4 separate regions of the Homo sapiens genome follow, and regions 2, 3 and 4 are each linked to region 1. The links come from fine-mapping of genetic effects on gene expression. A gene starts in region 1. Each other region holds a variant in brackets. All regions are shown on one strand. Distances are from middle to middle. Region 1 holds the start of BMP1 (bone morphogenetic protein 1). Region 2 overlaps PIWIL2 (piwi like RNA-mediated gene silencing 2). Region 3 holds the start of PHYHIP (phytanoyl-CoA 2-hydroxylase interacting protein). Region 4 overlaps BMP1 (bone morphogenetic protein 1).

Region 1 (6,158 bases):
GCTCACTACAGCCTCCAGCTCCTGGACTCAGCCTTGAACTCTCGAGCTCCAACTCCTCCCAGCTAAGCCTCCCAAGTAGCTGGGACTACGGGTGCATGACACCATGCCCAGCTAATTTTTAAATTTTTTTGTAGAGATGGGCATCTTGCTGTGTTGCCCAGGCTAGTCTTAAACTCCTGGCTTCAAGTGATCCTCCCACTTTAGCCTCCCAAAGTGGATTACAGGCATGAGCCACTGCCCCCTGCCTAGACTTCTTAAGAATCCCTTCTTCCTGGGGAACCCCACTGCCCCGCCCTGCCCCATGTAGGGCCCAGGGAGAGTACAAATTTTTTCCTCACCCCTTGCGGCACTGAAATAAGAAGGTGACTCAGGGGCAGGGGCCTGGGTGGGTGGGGTGACTCAGCTGTCTAGAGGGGGAATGTGGTCTGGTGAGAGGAGAGATTACTTCTCGACCTCAGAGGGTGTACCCTAATCCTCTATGGCTCTCTGATGTCCAAACCTTGGCCAGGCGTCCCCCTGGGTGGGATGGGGATGTGGGCTGGTAAGTGCTGCCCCTCCCGCTCCTGCAGACTCTGGGCTGTCAGATGAGGTTGAGGTGGTAGCAGGGGCCTCACTGGCACAGGGTCACTACCCAGCTCTGGGTGTGACATGCTTCTAGCCCCACCCCTGTGGGGTCAGGCCCCTGGGCTTCTCTGATTTTGGGATCAACTGTGTCCCAATTCCTGCCTCCAAGGTCTCTCCGGGGGGGTGTTGGCTAGTCACCTGGGGCAGCCAAACAGTGCTGGGAATCTTGCAGAAGGACCCCCTTCATGGTTTGGCTGATTTCCTGACATACAGGAAATCAGGCCTGCCTCAAAATCTTCCTGGGCAAGGGCTAGTGAGGGCTTGGTGGCACCAGCTCTGAGCACACAAACAGACCAGCCTGCCTTCCTGCCCAACGTCCTGGTCTCACCCAGAAGGTCCAGGAACCTCTCCAGGGTATCAAGGATATTAATTTTGCCCTCACTACAACGGCAACCATAACTCGGCCAGTAATGGTCCAACGAAGGGGCGTGGCTACCCTCAGAGCAACTGGAAAGGTCACAGGTAAGCTGTGGGAGTCAAAGGAGCTTTCAGTTCCAGCCCTTGAAAAGAAGCAGAGACAGCATGCCTGCCATCATCACCTCCAGCATCTGGAGGTCAGGGCTGCAGAGGATACAGGAAGCAAAGCCAGGCAGGAGAAGGAAACGTGGAGAACAGAGCTGAGGGACCTGTGGCTGGAAGGCAGTGGCACAGGGGTGTGGGTGTGAGTACTTAGGAATGCCCATGTGAGTTTCCTCTGGAGGTGGGCAGCAGATCTCAAGCATCAGTCACACCCGAGAGGGAGGCCTGATCTGACCCAAGGCCTGGCCTTGTCAGGCCCGGGGGCCCTCTCAGCCGCCCCCAGCCCTGGCCCAGCGCCCCACCAGCCTCACTTCACCCAGTTGGAGTGCTTTCTCCAGAGCCCTTACTTGAAGCTCCAACTCAGCCAGCCCCACCCTAGCATGAAACCTGAGACTGGGGGGAGAGCCCTCAGCCTCTTGCTGCTCTGAAAATCACTCCCATTTCCAACAAGAAGGGAAAGACATCAGAATGGCTTCCCACCCATTCTTTAAGGCCAGGCCCCAGCCCCACCTCCTCCATGAAGACCCCCCCAGACCTTCTCAGCCTGCTGTGATCACTTTTCTCTGCCACCACCAGGCTGCAGAGGGGCAGGAAACTCCCTGAGTCTTTGGCATCCTACCCTCCAATGTGGCACTCAGTGTGGCTTGGTTTGTGCTATTGGTTATGTCTGTAGGTGTCTTGGGTCCCTACTGGACTGTAAGCTCCTTGAAGGCAGGGTCCTAGCTTGTACGTCTCAGTACCTCCCACAACATCCATTCCAGGCCCTAGCACATATTAGGTATTGATGGATTGATGGATAAGAGGCACAAGGAGACACCAGCAATCCCACACCTCTCAAAAAAATGAAGTGACAGTCTGAGGCACAGAAAACAGGGAGTAGGGAGCCCACATTTATTTAGCGCTGACTGTGTGTTAAGCACTATTAAGTGTTTTATGTATGTTTTCATATTTAACCCTTACCACCAACTCTATGGGAAGATGCATGATCAGTTCCATTTTACAGGTGTGAAAGTGGCAGTTCAGACATGATCATTACCATTCTGAGGTGGTACAGCTATAATGAGTAGCAGGGTCAGGATTGAAAGCTAGATGTGCCTGCCTTCAAAGTCCATGCGCAGTCCACTCTGCCCTGTACCCACTCCCAGCCCCCAGCGAGAAAAATGACAGCAAATGTCCTGGTTTACCCGCAGCCCAGCAGGTGTAGAGGGGTAAGGGCTGAGGGATTTGCCCTGATTTCCTCCATTGGATGGTCTCTTATTCCTGCCTGTGGGCCACCCTCCCAGGAGAGTCCCTGAACAGGGTCTCCAGAGCCAGGACTAGAGCAACCTGCCCCTCCGCCCCTGGTGCCCCACACAGGCAGTCCAGTTCTAGCAACTATGCCACTTCCCCTGGCTCTGGCTATTTGGAGATGAGCTGAAGTCAGAGAGGCAGGAAGTCAAGGAAAAGTTCTGATATCTTGTCCCTGTGTGTCCCCAAACAGCCTGCCCAGGGTCATCCAATCAGGCAAATGGCCCGAGTGCCTGGCCATCTGGTCACTCCAGGGGCAGGACCCTTCTGGGCTCAGCAGGAGTGATGGGGTTACATAGAGTCTTCAGAGACAAAGAACACACACACATACAGGCAAACACACACTCCGGGGTCCTGACCTCAGCTAATTAGCCTCTGGTGTCTCGGGGGTGACAGAGCTGATATACAATATCTGGGTTCTCTTTGTATTTTCCCTCTTTCCACCCCAACTTGGCCTTGGCGGGGGTCTCTGGGCACATAGGGACAAAGTTAAGTCCCCCTTCTGGGTTGGCTTCTCTGACTTTGACAGCTGTCTCCTAAGTCCCAGAAAGCTTCAGCTACTGGTTAAACTACGGGATACCCAGAGAGCACGATCTCAGGGAATCCCTGGAAAAACTTTCTTCTTCCACTTGGGCTGGGTGGTGGCTGGGGGACCTGCTCCTTGGAGACTCAGGCCTCCCAGATCCAAGCCAGACAGATGTGCAGCCCCAGGGCAGCCCAGACAGGCTGGAAAACACCCAGCTCCTGGAGCAGGAGAGATGGGGGAGAAGGGGAAAGAACACACACACACACACACACACACACACACACACACACACACACGCACGCACAGGAGTTTGGCCAGAAAAGTTTCCTACAGAAGGAAAAGCCGCCTTGCCCGCCGGTTTTCCCGGGACGCAAGGAGACTTCCTCTGGAATCCTCTGGGAAGATGAGAGGCAGCGGCAGCAGCTTCCACCAACAGCGGCAAAACTTCAGTCCGAAAAGTCCCCCAAATCCCCCTCCCTCTCCCCCTCGTTCTTTTGTTCCCCACTGCATTGCCAACCAGGCAGCTCCCGGCTTCCCACACTGGACTGTCCTCCCCCAACCCCAAGCCCGAACCCGCCCGCGCCTCCCCGCCTGGCCCGTCGCCGGGGGGCCGGGGGGCGCTCACCCGCCTTGCAGGGGTCTTTGTAGTTGAGGGGCTCCGAGTCGTCCTCCTCCGCCAGGTCATAGGTGTAGTCGGCCAAGTCCAGCGGCCGGCCGGGACGCGGGAGCAGCAGCAGCCCGAGCAGCAGCGGCAGGCGGGCCACGCCGGGCATGCTGGCGGGGCGGCGGCGAGGGAAGCGGCGCACTGGAGGCCAGGGGAGGGCGTCCTCTCGCCCGCTTGCTTGCTCGATCGCGACCGCGACCGCTCCCGCCCTCGCTCCCCGACCTCTTCCCCTTCCCTCTGCTCGCCTCCCTCCTTCCTGTCTCCCGCCCCCCGCTCGGTCCGCGGCTCCGCGCTCGTCCTCGGGCTCCAGCCGTCTCCCTCTCCCTTTCCTTCTTTTTCTCTCTTTCTTTCTCTCCCTCCCTCCCTCCCTCCGACTCCCCCCCCCCTTTTTAGGGAAATGAGCTCGCTGGAGGGCGGGTTTTCGCCCGAGCTCTGCCCCCCTCGGGGCCGGGACAGTGCTCGGCCGGGCCGGGCCGCGCGCCAGCCGGGGCGGGGAAGGCGGAGAGCCGCGCGCCCGGGGAGGGGGCTCGGGCCGCCCGGGCCGCGGGCCGCGGGCCGCGAGGCCGGGGCTGGAGCTCGGGCCCCGGGGTGCCGGGAGGGCTGTCCCTCCTGAAGTGCCCTCTAGCGGCGGCCTCCCCCGCGGGCGCGCGGCCGAGCCCCCGCCCCGCCGCGGGACACGCTGTCAGGTCCTCGCGCCGCCCCTGCCCCGCGCCCCCGCCTCGGGTCGGTCTCTCCGCCCGCGTCTCCCTATCTCCCCTTCTTGGACCCTCGCTCTCTCGCGTCTCGCTCTCTGCGCTCTGTCTCTCTCGCTGTCTTGGTGTCTCTCCCTCCTCCGGAGACGCCGCTGGAGGGCGCCGAAAGCCCGTGGATGGCTCCCTGCGAGCCCCTCTCCCCCGCCGAGGTGGACCCAGTGCCCCAGCGCCCTGGGACAGAGGGCGAATGGCAAACCCCACTTTGCTCTCCCAAGGCCCTTCCCTTCTTGGCCGGCCCCCGCCAGGGCAGGACTGCGCCCTGCAGGAAGACAGAAGCAGACCCTTTGCTTTTCAATCAGGCTGCTTTATTCTGTTGTGGCAGGAGTTCCCGGGCCCCTGGGCGCCACCTCTGCCCACTCCCATCCTCTCCCCAAGCTCCCATTTCTCCAGGGCTTGTCCCTGCGGTGTGGGCAGAAGCAGCTTCTTGCCCGTCTGCAAAAGCTGCAAAAGACCCTTTGCCCGGGGCGTTTCCTTTCCCGTTGGGGCTTCCACTGACCCTGTGAAGCAAAGGAATGTTGAGGATGGACAGAGAGAATCAGGGGAGTGGGAAGTACCGGTCTGTGAGCTTCCCCTCCCCCGAGTTGCCTGGATGACCCCGCTTCAGTGGACGCCCCAGCGCCTGGTCAGCGCGAGCGCTCCTCCACAGCCCGGGCAGGTGGCCCGAGCGCTCCTCCGCTGCTGATCAGGGGCCCTGGGATCACACCTGCTCACCGGAGGCGTCCTAGATGTAGTAGAGCGGCACCTCGCCACACAGGGTGCTCACGGCCATGCCCAGGAAGGCCGGGTCCCCTCCGGAGGGTGCTGAGCCTGCATCTCGCCCCTCTGCCTGGCCCAGCTTAGACGTAGGCACTGCGGGCTTGGCCTGCAGAGAGCATTCCATCTGGAATGTAGGAAGTGAGTTTCTATCCCATGTGCAGCCCTTATTGTGGGACTTCAGGTATATCAGGCAATCTCTCTGAGCCTCAGTTTTCTCATCAGTAAAGAGGGGCTGTGCTAGAGTCAGAAGCCACCAGGTAGTGAGTGGACTCAGCTGAGCCCAGCAGCTTGGCAGTGGGGTGGGAAGGAAAGGAGTCGTGCAGGGGAATAGGAGAGGGGCAGTCAGCTGGCAGCCAATGAGGAACAGTGCTTTACAGGTGACAAATAGCCACCATTCGGACACTCCTCCCAGCAGCCCTGGGAGGGAGACAGCCCACTCTTTTCACCCACACACACACACCTGGAAGTTGTGGACTTTTCTAGTGAGAGCCTCAAGACTGGGGATGCTCTCTGGAGCTATCTTCATGATGTAGCAGCAGGTGCCAGGGGCTGGCTTGTAGGCGATCAGCAGCTAGGCACAGAATGCTGGAGATCATTCGGGGGTCCCTGCCCTGCTCTCTCCCTGACCCAGGTCCTTAGCCACCTCCCTCTAGGTTGGGCACGGGAGTCATACTAGAATCTGGGGCTCAGGCAAAAAAGGTCTGGAGGAGAGGGAGAGATGGATGTGGATGAAGTGGCCCAGCTGGGTGGCTCTAGCAGAGCCTTGTCATTGGTCCCAGGGTCAGGAGGTCTGGGCATACCCACCTGCTGGTAGTCATACACCACGAGGCCAGTGGAGCCGATGGAGAAGGTGGCAGTGGTAACCAGGTGCTCACTCAGGGCCAGGCGTTGCTGGGCTTCCGGCGCCCCAATGCTCATCTCCAGAACCTGGGGAAAGGGCATGGAGCCACCTGGTCTTCCCCTTTCCTACTCAGCCAGTGGTACCCATCCCCATACTCAGGCCTCTGTACTCAAATGCGCTTCCCTCTTT
Region 2 (5,000 bases), 120 kb before region 1:
TCCTTCTCAAAGCACAGCAGATGTCTATTCAGATGCTTATCTCAGGAGGACTAGAGACGAGGGCACATATATTCAGTTCAGTTATTCTACAACTAAAAATCTAAACAGGGCTGGGTGCCATGACTCATGCCTATAATCTCAACACCTTGAGAGGCTGAGGTAGGAGGATCCCTTGAAGCCAGGAAACATAGCAGGCTGGGAAACATAGCAAGACCCTATCTCTACAAAAAAAAAAAAAAAAAAAAATTAAAAATTGGCTGGGCATGGTAGCACACCCGTAGTCCTGGCTACTCAGAAGGCTGAGGTGGTAGGATCACTTGAACCCAGGAGTTCAGGGTTACAGCGAGCTATGATCAAACCACTGTACTCCAGCCAGGGTGACAAAACAAGACCCTGTCTCTGGGGGAAAAAACAAACAAACAGAACAATGTCTAATGTGTGTTATTACCAGCTGTTACTGAACTTTTCAGAAAATCATCAGCATGTTAAAGATAGACCCCACCATTCACTCACATGACATCCAGCACACAGTCATTCCGAATGACCTTATGGGAGACATCAGCTAGCAGGAAGAGCCCTCCATCTGTCCTTCGGATGCTAGCTGCATAGCCTGGCCAGATCTGCAATCTGGAGAGAGAGGTGGTCTCAACTGTAGGATTTTCAAAGAACACATATACTTCCATGCCCCCATGTGAACAAAACATTGAGGTGATACTGCCCTTCCCTAATAGTAATGAGAAAGCCTCAAGAAACTAAGTTAATTGACATTATTGCAAACTTACTGAAAAACCAAACTAAGGAAGAGATTTAATTGATAAACTGTATTCACTACCATAAACTACTGCTGACATTATAGTACTAAATACAATGGTTGTAATGGAAACTTTCTTTCCAGAACATTCAAAAGTGAGGGAAGGGAAAAAAGTACCAACCTGTGTTGCTGTAGTACCATAGCACTTGTAGGGTCATAAAAGTTTCTCCCCACAAGCTTCATATCTAAAAGTTTCATTACCCTGAAATAAAAAGCAAGTATGAGTTTTCTAATAGAAGAGTAATAAAATTATGTTCCATTATTCTTAGCTACATTTGCCTTTGGAAGTCTGAACGGTTAGAAATGTTTGTGCTCTTTGCAGAAGACAGCTTTTATATTGAGAACAATCTTGTTAAAAGAAAACCAAAAACTGCCAAAGCATTTGACTGAAAAAGCAAAGCAAAATGACAGCAGTCTTTTCCACTTACTAGCTGACCAAACACTGAGTTGGTTTCCAAGGTTTTATTACGTTACTTTTCACCACTAACTACGAAGAATGCAAGACAGCCCATTGCTAAGTGTGTGAATAACAGTGTGGCAAAGGGAGCTATGTTTACTCCTGGCAGTTCAACTTACTAGGTAGAAATTAGGTTCCATGGGCCGGGCGCGGTGGCTTACGCCTCTAATCCCAGCACTTTGGGAGGCTGAGGTGGACAGATCACGAGGTCAAAAGATCGAGACCATCCTGGCCAACAAGATGAAACATCATCTCTATTAAAAATACAAAAATTAGCCAGACGTGGCAGCGCATGCCTGTAATCCCAGCTACTCAGGAGACTGAGGCAGGACAATCACTTGAACCAGGGAGTCGGAGGTTGCAGTGAGCCGGGATTGCGCCACTGCACTACAGCCTGGCGACAGAGCGAGACTCCGTCTCTCAAAAAAAAAAAAAAAAAGAAAAAAGAAAAGAAAAGAAATTAGGTTGTGTTTCATTAAATAAGAGAATAGCGGCTGTATGAAAACTAGGATGTTTCAAAAGAAGTTAAACAATTATGAGCTGTCTGTAATCCAAAAATTCAAGACACTGAAAAATCCTTCCAGCAAATATTTTTACACACAACCTCTTTAAGTAGCCCCCTTGTTACCGTCACCATTAAATATGCACTATCAACAGCCGCTTTCAAAGTTCCTGAACACAACTGGAGGAACCCGTTCCCCTATCCAGCTACCTCCAAACCTAATTTCATATATTCAAATCTGGTCTACCACTTGTGAGATAATTTTTGAGTAAGTTAGCCTCAATACCATCCATTTATTCATTAAATGCTTCCAAACCCATCTAGAATATACTGTCACGTATTTCCATCCAAGTATCTTGAAGAACATTACTGTAAATACAAGACTGAAGTTACAGGACAATAGAACTTCAGCTGTTTTCTTACCGACGGAAAACAACATTGTAGAAGGGAATGCACAGGTCAGAGCAGGGCTCCAGGATCTTTGTCATCTGAATCTTAATGCTGATTTCAGCACTGTCTGTTTTCCTTTGACTTTTTAACTCAAGAACCTAACAAATAAATACACACAGGTGAAACAAAATGACAAAACTAAGAACTAATGACCAAGTCCTAATCTAATTCAACTGTGTTCTTAAGAACACTAAAGTATCTTAAAACATTTTTCTACTTTTCCCCTCACTTTGTTGCCCACACTAGCAAAAGCACAGCATGACAACTACGATTCAGAAAAATGATTTGGTAAGAGAATTCCAACCAAGTTTACATTTGCAATTTTTTTTTTTTTTTTTTTTGGAGACAGAGTCTCGCTCTGTCACCCAGGCTGGAGTGCAGTGGCGTGATCTCGGCTCACTGCAGGCTCCGCCTCCTGGGTTGA[C/T]GCCATTCTCCTGCCTCAGCCTCCTGAGTAGCTGGGACTACAGGCGCCTGCCACCATGCCCAGCTAATTTTTTTTATTTTTAGTAGAGACAGGGTTTCACCGTGTTAGCCAGGATGGTCTCAATCTCGTGACCTCGTGATCCACCTGACTTAGCCTCCCAAAGTACTAGGATTACAGGCGTGAGCCACCGCACCCGGCCTACATTTGCAATTTTAAGTTACTCTTTATCACTGAGGTCACAGACTTCCAACCATTCCTCTCATGTGAGAAGGTGCTTCTTGAGGAATTCAAACCTAAAATGTGCTGTGATGTCCTGCAGAAATCTGTCTTCCCCTCTATGAACAGAAAAGCACAACTCGAACATACAGGAATTCTATGGTTTCCTACCCCTCAAAACACCAGTCCTGGGCCAGGTGAAGTGGCTCACACGCCTGTAGTCCCAGGGCTTTGGGAATTCGAGACCAGTCTGGGCAACATAGCAAGACCCAATCTCTTAAAAGCAAAACCAAACAAAAAACGCCAGAGCACTCTTAGGGTTCATCTCAAAGTCCATTTCCTGTTTGGTCTCACTTGTTGAAGCTTAACAGGCAGATAGAGAATAGATCCATCAAACGCAGTGACGTTGCCGGTGACAGCTTGATGGTCCTTCAACATGCCGAACCTCATGCTTTTGCACTCCACATTGGGGCTGGAAAATAATGAAGAGGATTTTCCTTTAACTTGACTCAAACTGCAATCTTTACCAGAGCTGTGCAACAGGTGCTAGTTACCCAGTAACTGCTGCTCCATCTAGCGGGCATATTAAAAATTATCTATCTGCCTAGAACTTTGACTCAAGAAGACCTGCTCGCAGCTGAAACATCAGAAACCATAGGTCATAAAAAAATAAAAACCACCAAATCCTACCACCAAAGGACACCTGCCTTAGCACGTCAGTGTATATTCTTTCATATATACACATTTGTTTTTGAGACGGAGTCTCGCTCTGCCGCCCAGGCTGGAGTGCAGTGAAGCCATCTCAGCTCACTGCAATCTCCACCTCCCAAGTTCAAGTGACTCTCCCTTTGTTTCCTTAACATTTGTCACTCCATTTTAAGAGGAAGACTTCTCCCCATCTCCCTTTTTTTTTTTGAGATAGGGTCTTCCTTTGTCACCCAGGCTGAAGTACACTGGCATGATCATAGCTCACTGCCATCTCAAACTCCTGGGCTCAAGTGATCCTTCTGCCTCAGTCCCCCAAGTAACTGGGACTATAAGGGTACCACCACACCTGACTAAAAAAAAATTTTTTTTTGCCCTGGCTCGGTGGCTCATGCCTGTAATCCCAGCACTTTGGGAGGCCGAGGTGGGTGATCACTTGAGGCCAGGAGTTCAAGATCACTCTGGCCATCACGGTGAAACCCTGTTCTACTAAAAATACAAAAAAATTAGTGGGGTGTGGTGGCATGTGGTTGTAATCCCAGTTACTCGGGAGGCTGAGGCATGAGAATCATTTCAGCCTGGGAGATGGAGGTAGCACTGAGGCAAGACTGTGCCACTGCACTCCGGCCTGCGCAACAGAGTGAGACTCTGTCTCAAAATAAATAAATAAATAAAATTTTTTGTTGTTGTTACCTAAGACAGTCTGGAACTCCTAGCCTCAAGCAACTCTCCCTCCTCGGCCTCCCTAAGTGCTGGGATTACAGACGTGAGCCACTGCATGCAGCCCTCTCCCCTCTGTTTAATGCTCACCTCTTTGCTGTATGTTTCACAACAAGCCTGTTTCCTGGGATCCAATTTCCCCCACTTTTCTGGCTACTTCCCTCTACCTGTTGTATGTGCTCAGCTCCGCTTTCTTACCTCATAGAAACTATTACAGCAATCCTGTTGCCTTCTATAATTATTCCATTTCTCATTCCTCTTATAAACTTTTTAAATGAGTGGCCAAGTCAGTGGCTACTTCTCATGGCCTATGCCCTCCTTTGTGCTTTTCATCTTTCCTTTTTTTTCTCTACAACTGTAACAAAACTGCTAGAAGATCACAACACCCTCAACAAGCAAATTCAGTTGCTTTTTTTCCTGTGGCCAAAGTCAACCACCTTCTCATTACCTTCATTCAAAAGAGTCCTTCCTTTGGTCTTTATAACATACCTTCAGAATATTTTCTCCCTAACTGTTCCTTTCTCCTCTCTTTCACTCCACTTCTTCCTCTTGTGTCATCAACTAGCAGCTGCCCTTCACAAATTCAGCCTTCCTAGTATAGCTACCTTTAGAAATAGTATAGAAGTTTCTGGCCAGGCATGGTGGCTCATGCCGGTAATCCCAGCACTTTGGGAGGCCGAGGCAGGTGGATTACTTGAGGTCAGGAGTTTGAGAC
Region 3 (6,158 bases), 63 kb before region 1:
GCAGATTCGGTCTGGCTCTCTCGTTCTTTCTCCCTTCTCTGCCTCTCTCTCCTCCACGCTGCTTTGATTTCGCTCTTGCCTCTCTTCTTGCGCTGCTCAGCTGGGAACATCGTCTCACCAGGGGCAGCAGCGACGCGCTGCACAGCCAGACAGGAGCTGGCTGCGGGGCATGGAAGCAGCCTCCTTGGCAGCCGGGAGAGGAGCAAGCGCACGCCACTGCCCGTGACCCAGGCGTCCGGCTGCTGTCCCCTGCCGGGGAGCTCATCCACGCAGAGGTCTCTCCCTGTCCTCCCTGCGAGCTTTTCCTCTGCAGAGCCCAGTGGAGCCAGGTGAGTACCCTTCCTCCCTGGAACCTGCTGCTGTTGATCCTGAGTAGCCGGGATCTGGGGGCTCTAGGGTCCTGCCACCACCCAGGGTGCCCACCTGGACTGCCAGGCCTGACGACCTTGTCCCCTCTCCCCCCCCCCGGCCAGGCCTTTGGCAAAGTGGTTAATGGCTGAATCCAGTCTCTGGGGCACCACAGTTAGTCACCCCGTGACCGTTCTGCTGCAGTCAGCGATGCCAACAGGGACAGCAGGGTGGGGGAAGCATTCCCTGTGGCAGGGTGGCTGTTTGAATGGGCATGGGGAAGGGGCACCGGTGTGCGCGGCGTGTGTGTGTGCGCGCTCGCGAGTTGGCTGGAGGCTTGCTGGCGCAGATAGGTCCGTCTGTCCGCAGTCATGCTCATGTGTGGGTTTTGAATGGTGTGAGGCATGTCTAGAAACATATCTTTCTGGCACACGTGAGGTACATGTGTGTGGGGGACTTATTTGAGTAGCCTGTGGGTGTGCGTGGGTGGGGACACTATGAGGCAGTATATTTAGGGGTAACCATGTCCCTTTTCATGTGTGTGGGAGTGTATGCAGACAGGGGCTTTCTATATGGGGAGGTGAGACCCAGAGCAGGATGGAGTGGGTAAAGAGAAGAAGGGGCAGAAACCATTGTCTGTGGGCAGAGCCACGTAGGTGCACAAACCTGTTGGCATGAAGGCTCAGGGCTGGCAGAGTGTGGCCAGAGGCAAACACATTTTCAAAGTCTGTCTTTGAGCCTGGAGATGATTCGAGAGAGAATACCAGACTTCGGGCGGGGGCTGCTGTGTGTATGAACACACATGTGTGTGCCGGCAGGCGTGTGGGTTGCGTGCCTTCTTGTGGAGGTGGCACACATGCATGTTGGTGCCTGTGGCATCCTCTTTTCCCCACATATGGCTTGTGAGGCGGTGTGCGTGGACGTGTGTGTGCGTGAGCCTGTGGACATGAACATGTCTGGGTGTGCATGGAGGTGACAGATTGAAGAGGGAAAACTGTGGGGCATTCTTAGAATGTGGAAGGTGGCAGCAGGCACCTGAATGTGGAGATGGGTGTGTGGGAGTGAGGACATCTGCGGAGGTGTGGGACGCGGGTGGGTGGGCACTCTTGGCGCATGTGTGTATGCGCGTGCGTGCCTGCCTGTGTGTGGGTGTGTACATGCCTGTCTTGGGGTGGATCCACACAGGAGTGTGGGTGTTTCTCGGGTGTTGCCTCAACCTGTCCCTCACACCCTGCCCTTCCCCAGTCTTCTGGGTGTAGAGAACTTGGGTTCACACCCACCCCTCTGTCCACCCCAGCTCACTCACTGCCACCCTCCCAAGCTAGCGGGGGGATGTCATCTCAGCTTTCCCAGAACCGTAGGGAGGGAGGGACAAGCAGACACCCAGGTCCTGGAGACCCCTACCGCCAAACACAGCTGCCCCTATTTCTAGGAGGACTCCAAGGAGAGGCAGGAATAGGTGCCTACTCATGGGACGAGTGTGGGCTGCCTCCGAGCGTGTGGGTGGGTGCCGCTCAGGGCCTCTTGGGTAGGAGTGTGTCTGTGTTCGTGTGTGTGTGTGCGTGTGTGTGTGTGAGGGGCACATGTGTGTCTCCCTGGGAGCTTCTCACCAGGTTCCCAAGAGATGGTAACTCCCCACTGCTCCACACCTGTCCCCATGAATTACAAACTGGTTTATTATGGTAGGGTTGTTTCCAGACACTCAATCCCATCTGCCTGATTTTGGGGTGGGCCTGGTAGCACCGCCATGCTTATTTACCATAGGATTCCCCATGCACAAAGCCACCGGCATTTGGCTGTGGGGTGGGAGGCTAAGATGAAACAGGACTTGAGTGACACCTGGAGCAGGTAAGGGCCATCACCTTTAGCCTTCACCCTGTACTTGCCATCCAGGCAACTCACAGGTTAATACAGAGGTGCCAGGCTCTGGAGCAAGCTTAATTGACAGGAAGGTGTGGGCTGGATCCTCTGGAAGCTATAAATAAAAGTACCTGCTTTTGCAGGCACAAGATGCCCTCACCACTAGCTCCTGGGCAAGGGGAGGAGAAAAAGAGGGGAGAAAGAAGAGAAGGAGGTGACATTTAGAAAAATGAGGGGTGCCAGGAACTGGGCTGGAGGAAGGGATTGGAAAGCAGGAGACCAAATGCCCCTGGAGAATGCCCCACCCACGTCTGCTGTCCCCTCCCAGACGCTGTCACTCCCCTTCCCTTTGCTCTTCCCCATCCCGGAGCTAGGCCAGCCAGGCCAGAGTCATGGCCAGAGTCAGCTCTTCCCAGCTAAAGCACACATGAGAGTGACCGTGATGAGGTCCTCTCATACCTGGACGAGCAGCAGACATAAGGGGAGAACCAAAGGAGTAAGACAGGGAGGGGAGAGAAAATGCAGTTGCTTGAAAGGAAACGATGGAAGGAGGAAAAATGCCAGGTGGAAACACCATGGGCACCCATGCATGCACACACGCCACACATGTGCCCCTCCACCCCCACACATGAGGGGACACTATCTTAGCTTAGTGATCAAGAGCTTGGGTGCCGGAGTTCAAATCATTTGCTCTCTGCGTGGCCTTGGGCATGTTAGTACCTCCCCAACCTCAGTCGCCTCATCTGTAAAATGGAGATAATGATAGTGTGTGCCTACTTCCAAGGTTGCATGAGACGTCTGTGAAATTATGAGCACATGGCCGGCCCCTAATAGATGTTAATGTTAAAAGTCATGATTGAAAGGAGTCAAGAGAAGATTGGCCGAAAGAGAAAGAGGGATCATCAAAAAAAGTTATGGGTGGAAAAAGAGCTTGAAGCCGGCTGTGCCGCGTACCCCTCCCACCACGAATGTGTCCACATGCACCAACGTGGCACTTGTCCTTCCAGCCATGTACCGCGGCAACGCTTGCTGACCCCAGTGAGGAGAGAGGCCTGAATCCGAGGGCCCTGGCACCTGTGAGCTCTTGGCTGTCACCTGCCCCAAGCCTCGCACCTCCGCTCCACAGCAGGTGCTTCCTGCGTTTCCTCCGCCTCTCACCCGTCCTCTCCACCCCCACCCCTTTCTCTTTTCACGCCTGCTGGCTGAGGGCCCCCTCCCTCCTCGGCTCCATCTGCTGCAAATCTGTCCCCGCCCGGCTTTGCAGC[A/G]TTCCCACTGCCTCTGCCACCTGTCAGGTGCCGTCTGCTCTGCAGACCCCTCCGAGGAGAGCAAAGAGCCCCCCGGGCAGGCACCCCTTTCCACCCTCCATCATCCTTCTCCAGCCTCCCCTGTACAGTCTTTCCCATCTGGTTCATGAGGCATGTGGATTCCAGGGGTCCTTGAGGTTCCGCCTCGAAAGGGATATTGGGAGGAGGACATTCCAGAAAGCTCGCCGGGGTCAAGGGATGTACTGACCCTTTCCCTCCTCCTCAGTCCCCACAGGAGACAACCCTGACGGGAGCATGGAGCTGCTGTCCACGCCCCACAGCATTGAGATCAACAACATCACCTGCGACTCCTTCCGCATCTCCTGGGCCATGGAGGACAGTGACCTGGAGAGGGTCACCCATTACTTCATTGACCTTAACAAGAAGGAGAATAAGAATTCCAACAAGTTCAAGCACCGGGTGAGTAGAAGGTGTCCTGGGAGCCCCTCCCCAGCTTCTGTTCCTGAAGGAGGCCGGATAAGGGAACACCTGGAAGTGATGGCTTGGAGTCAGAGGCTGGTTAAAATCCACACTCTTCTTCCTGTGTCATTTTGGGAAAGTTACTTGACCTCTCTGAGCCTGAGCTCCTTCCCTGGTAAAGAGGGAATAACAATGCCAAGCCTCACGGGGTCGTGGAGAGGATGCAGTGAGTCATGTTTGCGTGGTGCTTGGCCCGGCGCCTAGCACAGAGGGAGCGTTGTTATCAGCGCCACAACTGAGACTTCAGGCAGGGGCAGAGAGCCCGGGTAGGGTGGGGCCGCAGGCTTCGCCTATGGGGATGACGTCTCAAGTCTCGACAAAGCCCCGGCTCAGGGCACAGCCTCGCTGTTGGCTGGGTGGGCCACACGGGCCTCGGTCGGGGCGGAGCCCTTTTGCTGTGGCCTCAGTTCTCCCTCTCGGGCCCCTCACCTGCTGGCCTGCCATTTGCTTGACTTAGAAAAGGAATGGGAGAGAGTCCTCCGTGGGTGTGTCCTTTCCTGGGGTTAAAAGCCAGTGTGGGGGTGGGTGGGAGGAAGACCCCCATCCTCTCAAGCTGGCAGAGGCAGGGGGAGTGAGGCGGCCAGCTGGCTCCCAGGCCGACGGCACCGGCGTGGGTTACTCACCCGCTCTCTTTCTCTGGAACCGGCTCTCCCGATCTGGGTGTCTTTTGGCAGGCCAGTTGCCACGGTGACGTGAATGTTCAACACCACCCCCTTAACCCTCCCCCCCAAAGAATAAGGCATATTTTCCCTTCCTCCCTGGCTTCTCAGCATTTGCCGTTGCCGTGGAGACGGCACTGCAGTGTGCAGAGCTCTCAAAGTCTCCTTAAAAAATGAAGGCCTTGCCGTCCTCAACTTTGTGGCTTTTCCCCTCCGTTCCCAAGAGAACGGGGTGTCAGGGGGGTTCGAGGAGGGGCCAAGGCTGTGGAGTGTCTGGGTGGCCTTCCCAGGAAAATGGTGGCCAGGGTATGGAGCCATTGGATCCTCAAGATTGGTCCTGCTCAGGAGAAACAGGGCCATCTGGGGAGTGGGGATTCTGGGGTGATGCCCAGATTGGGCATGAACCCCTGTTTGACGCCTGGCTCTCTGTTTGTACCCTGTTTCTCAGGACGTCCCCACCAAGCTCGTGGCCAAGGCAGTGCCGCTGCCCATGACGGTGAGAGGCCACTGGTTCCTGAGCCCCCGCACGGAGTACAGTGTGGCCGTGCAGACGGCAGTGAAGCAGAGCGATGGGGAGTACCTGGTGTCCGGCTGGAGCGAGACGGTGGAGTTCTGCACTGGGGGTGAGGCCCTGCTATCACACCCCTGTCCTGCTGCTTGGCACGTCGGGCTTTGCTGTGGTCAAGGCGGGTCTTCCTCGTAGTCCAGCAAACACTGATGAACACCTTCTGTCCACCAGGCAGCGTGCTTGGGCCACAGGGGAGATGCACGGGCATGACACCCTCCCTGCCTCCAGGAGCCCAACCTTTCTCTTCTCTCACTGGAGGCAAATGCGAACCCCACTAATCACGCTGGCAAGACCACTTCCATTAAGAAAGGGAGTTACTTTTCGGGCTTGGTACCAGATCACAGGCATCTTTTTAAACCTTGTGGTCAAAGGTGCATGACGTAAAATTTGCCGTCTCGACCATTTTGAAGTGTACAGTTCAGTGGTATTAAGTATATTCACATTGTTGTACAGCCAGTCTCCAGAACCTTTCTTCCTGGAAAACCAAAACTCTATACCCATTAAATAACCGCCCCCCATTTCCCTCTGCTAGCTACCATTCTACTTTCTGTTTCTATGAATATGACTCCTCTAGGTGTCTCATATCAGTACAATTGTATAGGATTTGTCTTTTTGTGACTGGAATATACCAAAATTTCCTTCCTTTTTGAAACTGGATAGTATTTCATTGTATGGATAGACCACATTTTGCTTAATCAATTATTTGTCAATGTGCACTTGGTGAGGCAATCACATTTCACTTGTTCTGAGCCTTCACGTAGCCTGGGAAAATGGCCCCTGGTCAATGGCCCCGCAAACTCTCTTAGCAGAACTTAACTTGTAGACTCCATCACAAACAAACAGTGGGCCTATGTGTGCTTGGTCCCTCACGACTCAGGGTCTGCCCCCACAAGATTACATTCTTTTGGTGTTCACGGTGAGAGCTGCTCCAGATCTCTC
Region 4 (6,158 bases), 44 kb before region 1:
CCGGGCGTAAGAGCCGGGGCTGCCCTGGGCTTTCTTTCCTTTTGAGATCCATGTAGAGAGAGGGGAGAGAGGGAACTGAGATGTGGTTTCTCCTCCTGGCCTCTGGGAGGTACAGGTCTGGGATGGGGAAGCGGGGTGTGCGATGGCAGGAAGAAGGAGGCCAGACAAGACATAGATTTGGGTCACCTGGGAAGTGGGGCCAGAGCTGGGATGTTTGCTCAGTGGCCGCTGAGTTCTGGCTCTTGTCTCCACGAAGACAGGGGGATCCATGGGGACCAGCACTCAGCATCTGACCGGCAGGAAGACAGGCACCAGGGGCCAACTGGACCTGTCCCAGCCGATGTGGGTTTTCTGGCCCCCGTGTGCTCACCTAGGTGGACACCCTTGCAGCCCACCTACTCCTTCCCTAGATGCAGAGACAGAAAACCCAGACGGACAGACACCCCTGACCCCTTTCACATCCTTCTTCCCTCCCCACCAAACAGCCACTTTATGGAATGTTCCACCCCTCCCCTCATGTGGGAGGACCGCGAGCAGTGCGTGTGGTGTGTGTGCGCGCTGTGATGGGTGCCTGCGAGTATCTGTGCCTGAGTGTGAAATTACACCCTTGGCAGCCTGGGATCAGGGGAGGGAAGGGCAGCCCGTGATGCCAGGTGCCCTGGCTACGTGCCAGCCTCCACAGCAAGCCCATACATCTGGAACATGATGGCCCCGCCCCCATGGCCCAGACAGCATCTGGCACAGGATATTGGCTGTAACACTTTCGGTTTATTGGCTGCGGTGCCCTGGTGTGGCTGACCGGCCACTGGGCCTGAGAGAAGCCCTGTCTTGTTTCTCCATCCCCTCCCCATCGGCTCCCCACGGTGGCTCCTGGGGGACATGCACAGACACTTGTGCCCCAGGAAACTGGGGTGGTGGAATGGGGGCTCAAAATAAAACCAAATCGAGGCTGGAGCAGGGGTGGGAAATGAACATTACAATGAAAATAATGCCCCCGGTGATACACAATACAGCGTGTAGAGACACAGGGATGGCGATGGGGTCCTGCTGACATTCCCTCTTGCCACCAGGCAGGGCCCCCTAAGAGAGGAATGATGACTTCGAAATGTCTTGTGGAAGCTCTGCTCCCTGGCCCCAGCCCCTTGCTGGTGGGGGTTTGTGGGGAAGTGGCTTATGCCGGAGTCCAGTTCCCCCACCTCCTATGGACAGTCTCACCAGGCCATTGGCCCTGCAGGTCCTGGGGCCTGGGGGAGAGGGATGGTGCGTTGCCTTCCGCCCACCCCCACTATCCAGTCTAGGCGACCAAGGGCAGCAGGCTCCAGTCCCCGCCCCTGCTCAGGCAGTGGTCACTTCCTGCTGTGGAGTGTGTCCTGGAACTTGGTGCTGGTGTATCGCAGGTGGAAACCTTTTTTGGTGATGGTGTCATCCGAGTGGAACTTCACCAGGACAGAATCTCCCGCCGAGTACACCTCCTCAGGAGGCTGGCAGAGAAAAGAGATGGGGTAAGGTGGAGGAAGAGGGGCTGGGGCTGCTGTCCTGCCTCCCCAAGATCCCCAGCTTTGAAGGGCAGGAGGCTCCCAGGCAGCCACCAGATTCTCCCCGCCCCTTGAAGCATAGGGCTTCTTGCTGGTTTAATGAGGAACCTGGGGAGGGGAGGAGGCGTGGGCCGAAGAGAACTAAGTTCCCGTAAACCCAGCTCTGCTATAACTACTAAATGAGTTGTGTAGTCTCAGGCAAGCCACCTCCCATCTCTGGGCCTCACTTCCCTCAGCCACAAACAGGAGCAAAAGGTCTCTGCTCTCCATGCCTAGGAGGGGTGCTGGGGAAAAACAAAGGACTGCACCGATGTCAAAGTATTTTGCAAAGGGAGGGAGTTCTTTGAATGGCATCACTTCCTGCTGTCCCAGTGGACTCTTAGGGAAGACGGCACAGCCACTTCTCTGCTGGAGTGTGGAGGAAGTTTTGGAGAGAAGCACAGTGCCCCCCAGGCCTGGACTCTGCCATCCCTACCCCTTGCCCCGCCTCTCCTCTGGCACCTGGCCAAGGTCTGCTCCCGAGCCCTTCTTAGGTGCCTCCTGCAAGCCTACTGAGTGAGGTCAGCCCTCAGAGCATCGGACGTCAACGCCCTGGCCTTCCAGGCACAGAAGAAATCATTTCTGAGAACCTTGAGGACATTCCGAGTAGTTGTGCCAGGAGGCCCTGATCCTTCCCCAAGTTCCTTCCGGTCAACTCAGCCTGGGGGAGGTCTCTGGAAGAAGACACCTGGGGACATCCGATTTGGTGTGTGATTCAGAAGAAAGAGCAAAGAGGGGAGGGGACACTAGCCTGGCAGCCAGGGGACACCAGGGCAGCCAAGCTGCTTCAGGCTCCACCTTGTCCCAGCCCCTGCCAGCCACACGAGGGCTGAAGCTCTGCTCCTGGGGGAGGTTCAGCCAATGCTGGGTCCAGCAGCTGCTGCAGCTTCCAGGAGCTTTAACCCTTCCTGGGGCACCCAGGCTGCCTGGGATACAGCCATGAGATAGGCAAGGGGACAGGGAGGTGACAGGAGGGCCAGTGTATTTGAAAGTGCATGCAAGTGGGTGTGCCAGTGTGTGTGTATGTGTGTGAGAGAGAGAGAGAGAGAGAGAGGGAAAGAGAGAGAGATGGGTAGGAAGACAGTCTGTCTCTTTGAAGCCCTCAGGAAAGGACAAAAAAAAAAAAAAAAAAAGAAGAAGAGGCAGCTGCAAGCTCTTACAGGGAGGAAAATAAATCCTCCCCACGAGGCTAGCCCATGTCCTTAGGGAAAAGCCCATCAAGCCTACTTTTGCTCATTG[A/C]CTCTTAACGTGCCATTTTATGGACCAAGAAGCAGTGCCCAGGGGCCACTGGGACAGCAGCAGCAAGAGCTTTGGGACAAGCTGGCCTTTCATCAGGAGGAGAAACTGGTAGAGGAAATGACAAGAGTGTTTATGCCTCCGGCAAAAGGACTGGTGAGGGCCACTCCGCTCAGGCGCCCTGTCCCCGGCTCTGGTGCCAACCTCTGCCCCCCATTCCAGGCCCTGGTGGGCTGCCTTGGGGGAGGGGTAAGGAAAGGAGGGACAGAGGAAGCTCCATCCGCTCCAGGCCGTGGCCAACTGGTTCTGAGGCAGGCCTGGGTCAGAGGCCGCAGGAACTTCTAGGTTGCCCAGAAAGGACTTGGTTTCCTACGTCGGGGATGGGGCAGTGTCTCTGAGTAGCCCCAACAAGGCTGGGCTTCTGGGCTCCCACACAGGGCCACACGCGTGCTGCACTCAACTTCCGGGGCCTGTGTGGGCGCTAGGTCTTGGAGACTGGGCTGAGAAGGGTGGAGGACAGTGTGGGGCGTGGGGCATGGGGCCAGGAGGGCGAGGGGTGGGGGCCTCACCCCTGAGCCACAGTAGCGCCCCAGCCTGGGGGCTGTGCTGTCGTAGCCGTCGAAGAGCTCCATGTAGTCATAGCCGCAGTCGGTCTCCTCCTCCACCTCAAAGGTCTGGAACACGAGCTCCACGCCGTAGCCTTCCTCGGCCACAATGACCCACTCACAGTCCACACCCCCAGGGTAGTTGTTGTCGCCAAACTGGGCGTGGGAGTAAAGGTCCTTGGTCTTCACGTCTGCCCGTACCTGGCCCCCGCACTCTGTAGGGGACAAGAGGGGCCAACCAGCCCTGAGCACCGCAGGTGCCAGGCCCCATGGCACACTATGCCATGGCGTGCCCTCACGGCAGGATGGAGGCCTGGGTGAAGGCCACGAGGCCAGTGATGGGTGGGTGGGGGCCTGGCCCAGAACATTGCTGTGCTGCCCCATCTCTAAATAGAGGGACCTTGGCCCTAGGCTGAGGGGAACAGGCAGTGAGGCTCACCGAGAGGAAGACAGCATGGAGCGGTGGCACGAGGCACCACACACTTTGTCTAAAGAGGGCATTGCTCATTTTCTCCAGCTGATGGCTGTCATGGAAGAATGTGGGCCCAGTGTCGCCACAGCTTCCATTTTCAAGAGAGAAGCCGTACATCTGGGTTTTATGTGAAAACTCCTAACTTTTAAGTGTTGGCTCACATTTTTAAAAAAAACACAGTGTGGGCCAAACATAGCAGGTCTGAGGGCCAGATGGAGTTCCGGGCCTCCGGTTTGTGACCCTGTGCTGGGAAGGGCAGAGGACAGTGCATGGGGCCACCCTCCTCCCCAGGCCCTCTGGCTTTTGTGCACCTGGCACTCAGGTCTCGCTAGAGGAGGTGGGGAGAGGGAAGGACGGGGCTGGGTCAGGGACTGAGTTGAAGGGGAAGAGGGGAGGCTGTGGACCATCAGCTCTGGGGATGCCCTGACAGGTGGCTTAGGACCCAGGAGGAGACTGCAAAGCTCCCTCGTGGCATCCTTGGTCTGGCACTCAAGGCATCCCCCTGGACTCCAGCCTTTCTCTGCAGCCACATCATTCCCACAACCTGCTGTCCTCACACACCCATTGCTTCGGCCAAAGTAAATGACCTGCTGTCACCTGGGCACACTCTGGGCTGGGCTGGGGTTGTGTCTCTGCCTGGGCACCTCCCCCTGCCTCGAATGCCTCTACCAACACATGCCCAGTTAGGCCGGGGTGCCTTTCTTCCTGCCTGGCTCCCGCTTGGGCTCATGCTGTCACGGGCGGTGCCTGCCTTGTCTCTCTCCTGGACTGCGAGTTCCTAGTATGGGGTGGGGGGCAGGAGTGAAGGGCTCATGCCTGATTCAGGCCACGTGCCCCTTAGTCCTCTCGCAGAGCGGAGCTCAGTTCATGGCTGCTAAATAAACAAGCAAGTGAAAGCCGAGCAAGCCCCTCAAGGGCTGGGATCTTTGCTTGGTCTGTTTCTGGGACCTGCATTTAGGATGCCGCCTCATCCATGTTACATGTCAATAAGTATCAGGAGAATGGGCTGGGCACGGTGGCTCACGCCTGTAATCTCAGCACTTTGGGAGGCCAAGGCGGGCGGATCACCTGAGGTCAGGAGTTTGAGACTGGCCTGGCCAACATGGCGAAACCCTGTCTCTACTAAAAATACAAAAATTAGCTGGGCATGGTGGCAGGCTCCTGTAATCCCAGCTACACGGGAGGCTGAGGCAGGGGAATCGCTTGAACCCAGGAAGTGGAGGTTGCAGTGAACCAAGATCGAACCACTGCACTCCAGCCTGGGCGACAGAGCAAGACTCCATCTCAAAAAATAAAAAATAAATAAAAATAAAAATAAAAAAATAAATATCAGAGAATGAATAGAGTATATTTCAGGGTTGGTGTGTGGCTGGGCTGCTGCGGTGGCCCGCGTACGCTCAGGGGGACCTCTGGGGGCTTTCCTCTCTGTCCCTGAGTTCCCTCACCTCTCCTGTCCATCGTCATCACTGCCATCCTAACCCCTAACCACACCCTCCTATCCCTGCCCCCCAGGCCTGGTTCTCAGGACACAATGTTTGCATCACCCACAACCCTGGCCCTGGGTCGCAGGGCTCAGTCCCTCTGTACCTTCATACCCGCATTGAAACCCCCGACTCTACCCCAGTCTTGGAGACCAGGCTCAGTGAACACTCCCACAACCGGGGACAGTACCTGTGGCGTGGGAGGCCTGGAAGCCCTTTCGCTGGACCGAGTTATCTGAGTAGAAGCGCAGGAACATGCGGCTGCCTGTGGCCAGGACGGGCTCGGGCTTCTTGCTCCCACAGAAGCGGCCGAGGACGGGGGCCTTGGCGTCTCGCCCGTCGAACACCTCTAGGTGGTCGTAGGCACACTCAGGCTGGGACTCGATGTCCATCTCCATGAAGGTCTAGGGGGATGAGGAAGGAGCACAGATTAAAAATTTGGCTGGAAGGCAGGTGGGGCAAGGATGAGGGCCCCAAACCTAGGCCTCACAGATACCCATGGGAGCAGCCACAGCTGGGGATGACAGTGAAGGAGGGCCCAGGAATAGGGCGAAGGCAGGGACGCCCCTAATTTATACTGGGAAAGGGGCCTCTGTCCAGGCCAGACTTGGGGTCTCCTGGGGATGGCAGACCTCTGGGCTCAGCCTGCAGCCTGTGTGGCTCTGGGCAGTGCCTCTGACCGGGGGCAGCCACACCGCATAAGGAGTGGGGAGGGGACCCCTTACCAGCTTGACCCGGTGCCCGGGGGTGCTGGAGATGGCCCACGTGCACTCCTTCTTGCTGGGATACT

Evidence for each region.
Region 2: its variant is fine-mapped to the expression of BMP1 in whole blood (INTERVAL, PIP above 0.99).
Region 3: its variant is fine-mapped to the expression of BMP1 in cerebellar hemisphere (GTEx, PIP above 0.99).
Region 4: its variant is fine-mapped to the expression of BMP1 in whole blood (TOPMed, PIP 0.96).

The regions. Positions count from the first base shown.
Region 1 is chr8:22,162,977-22,169,134 of GRCh38, reverse strand. It overlaps BMP1 (bone morphogenetic protein 1), which reads right to left and starts at 3,763. Exons shown (of 20, transcript NM_006129.5): 1 at 3,582-3,763. The coding sequence starts at 3,729. It overlaps SFTPC (surfactant protein C), which reads right to left. Exons shown (of 6, transcript NM_001317778.2): 3 at 5,933-6,055; 4 at 5,589-5,699; 5 at 5,076-5,234; 6 at 4,656-4,869. The coding sequence ends at 5,094. RefSeq lists a silencer at 3,468-4,507.
Region 2 is chr8:22,285,860-22,290,859 of GRCh38, reverse strand. It overlaps PIWIL2 (piwi like RNA-mediated gene silencing 2), which reads right to left. Exons shown (of 23, transcript NM_018068.5): 7 at 3,215-3,332; 8 at 2,194-2,318; 9 at 933-1,013; 10 at 514-627. Among named protein-coding and RNA genes, the nearest start is that of PIWIL2, 13 kb to the right of the region's middle. The variant C/T (reference allele first, on the strand shown) is at 2,645.
Region 3 is chr8:22,225,967-22,232,124 of GRCh38, reverse strand. It overlaps PHYHIP (phytanoyl-CoA 2-hydroxylase interacting protein), which reads left to right and starts at 26. Exons shown (of 5, transcript NM_014759.5): 1 at 26-329; 2 at 3,739-3,932; 3 at 5,100-5,274. The coding sequence starts at 3,768. RefSeq lists enhancers at 1-396, 1,322-1,491, 3,596-4,303, 3,553-4,752, 4,304-5,011. The variant A/G (reference allele first, on the strand shown) is at 3,474.
Region 4 is chr8:22,206,917-22,213,074 of GRCh38, reverse strand. BMP1 (bone morphogenetic protein 1) reads right to left here. Exons shown (of 20, transcript NM_006129.5): 17 at 6,094-6,158; 18 at 5,559-5,772; 19 at 3,380-3,630; 20 at 749-1,481. The coding sequence ends at 1,347. Among named protein-coding and RNA genes, the nearest start is that of PHYHIP, 22 kb to the left of the region's middle. RefSeq lists enhancers at 838-1,529, 1,530-2,220, 2,221-2,912. The variant A/C (reference allele first, on the strand shown) is at 2,814.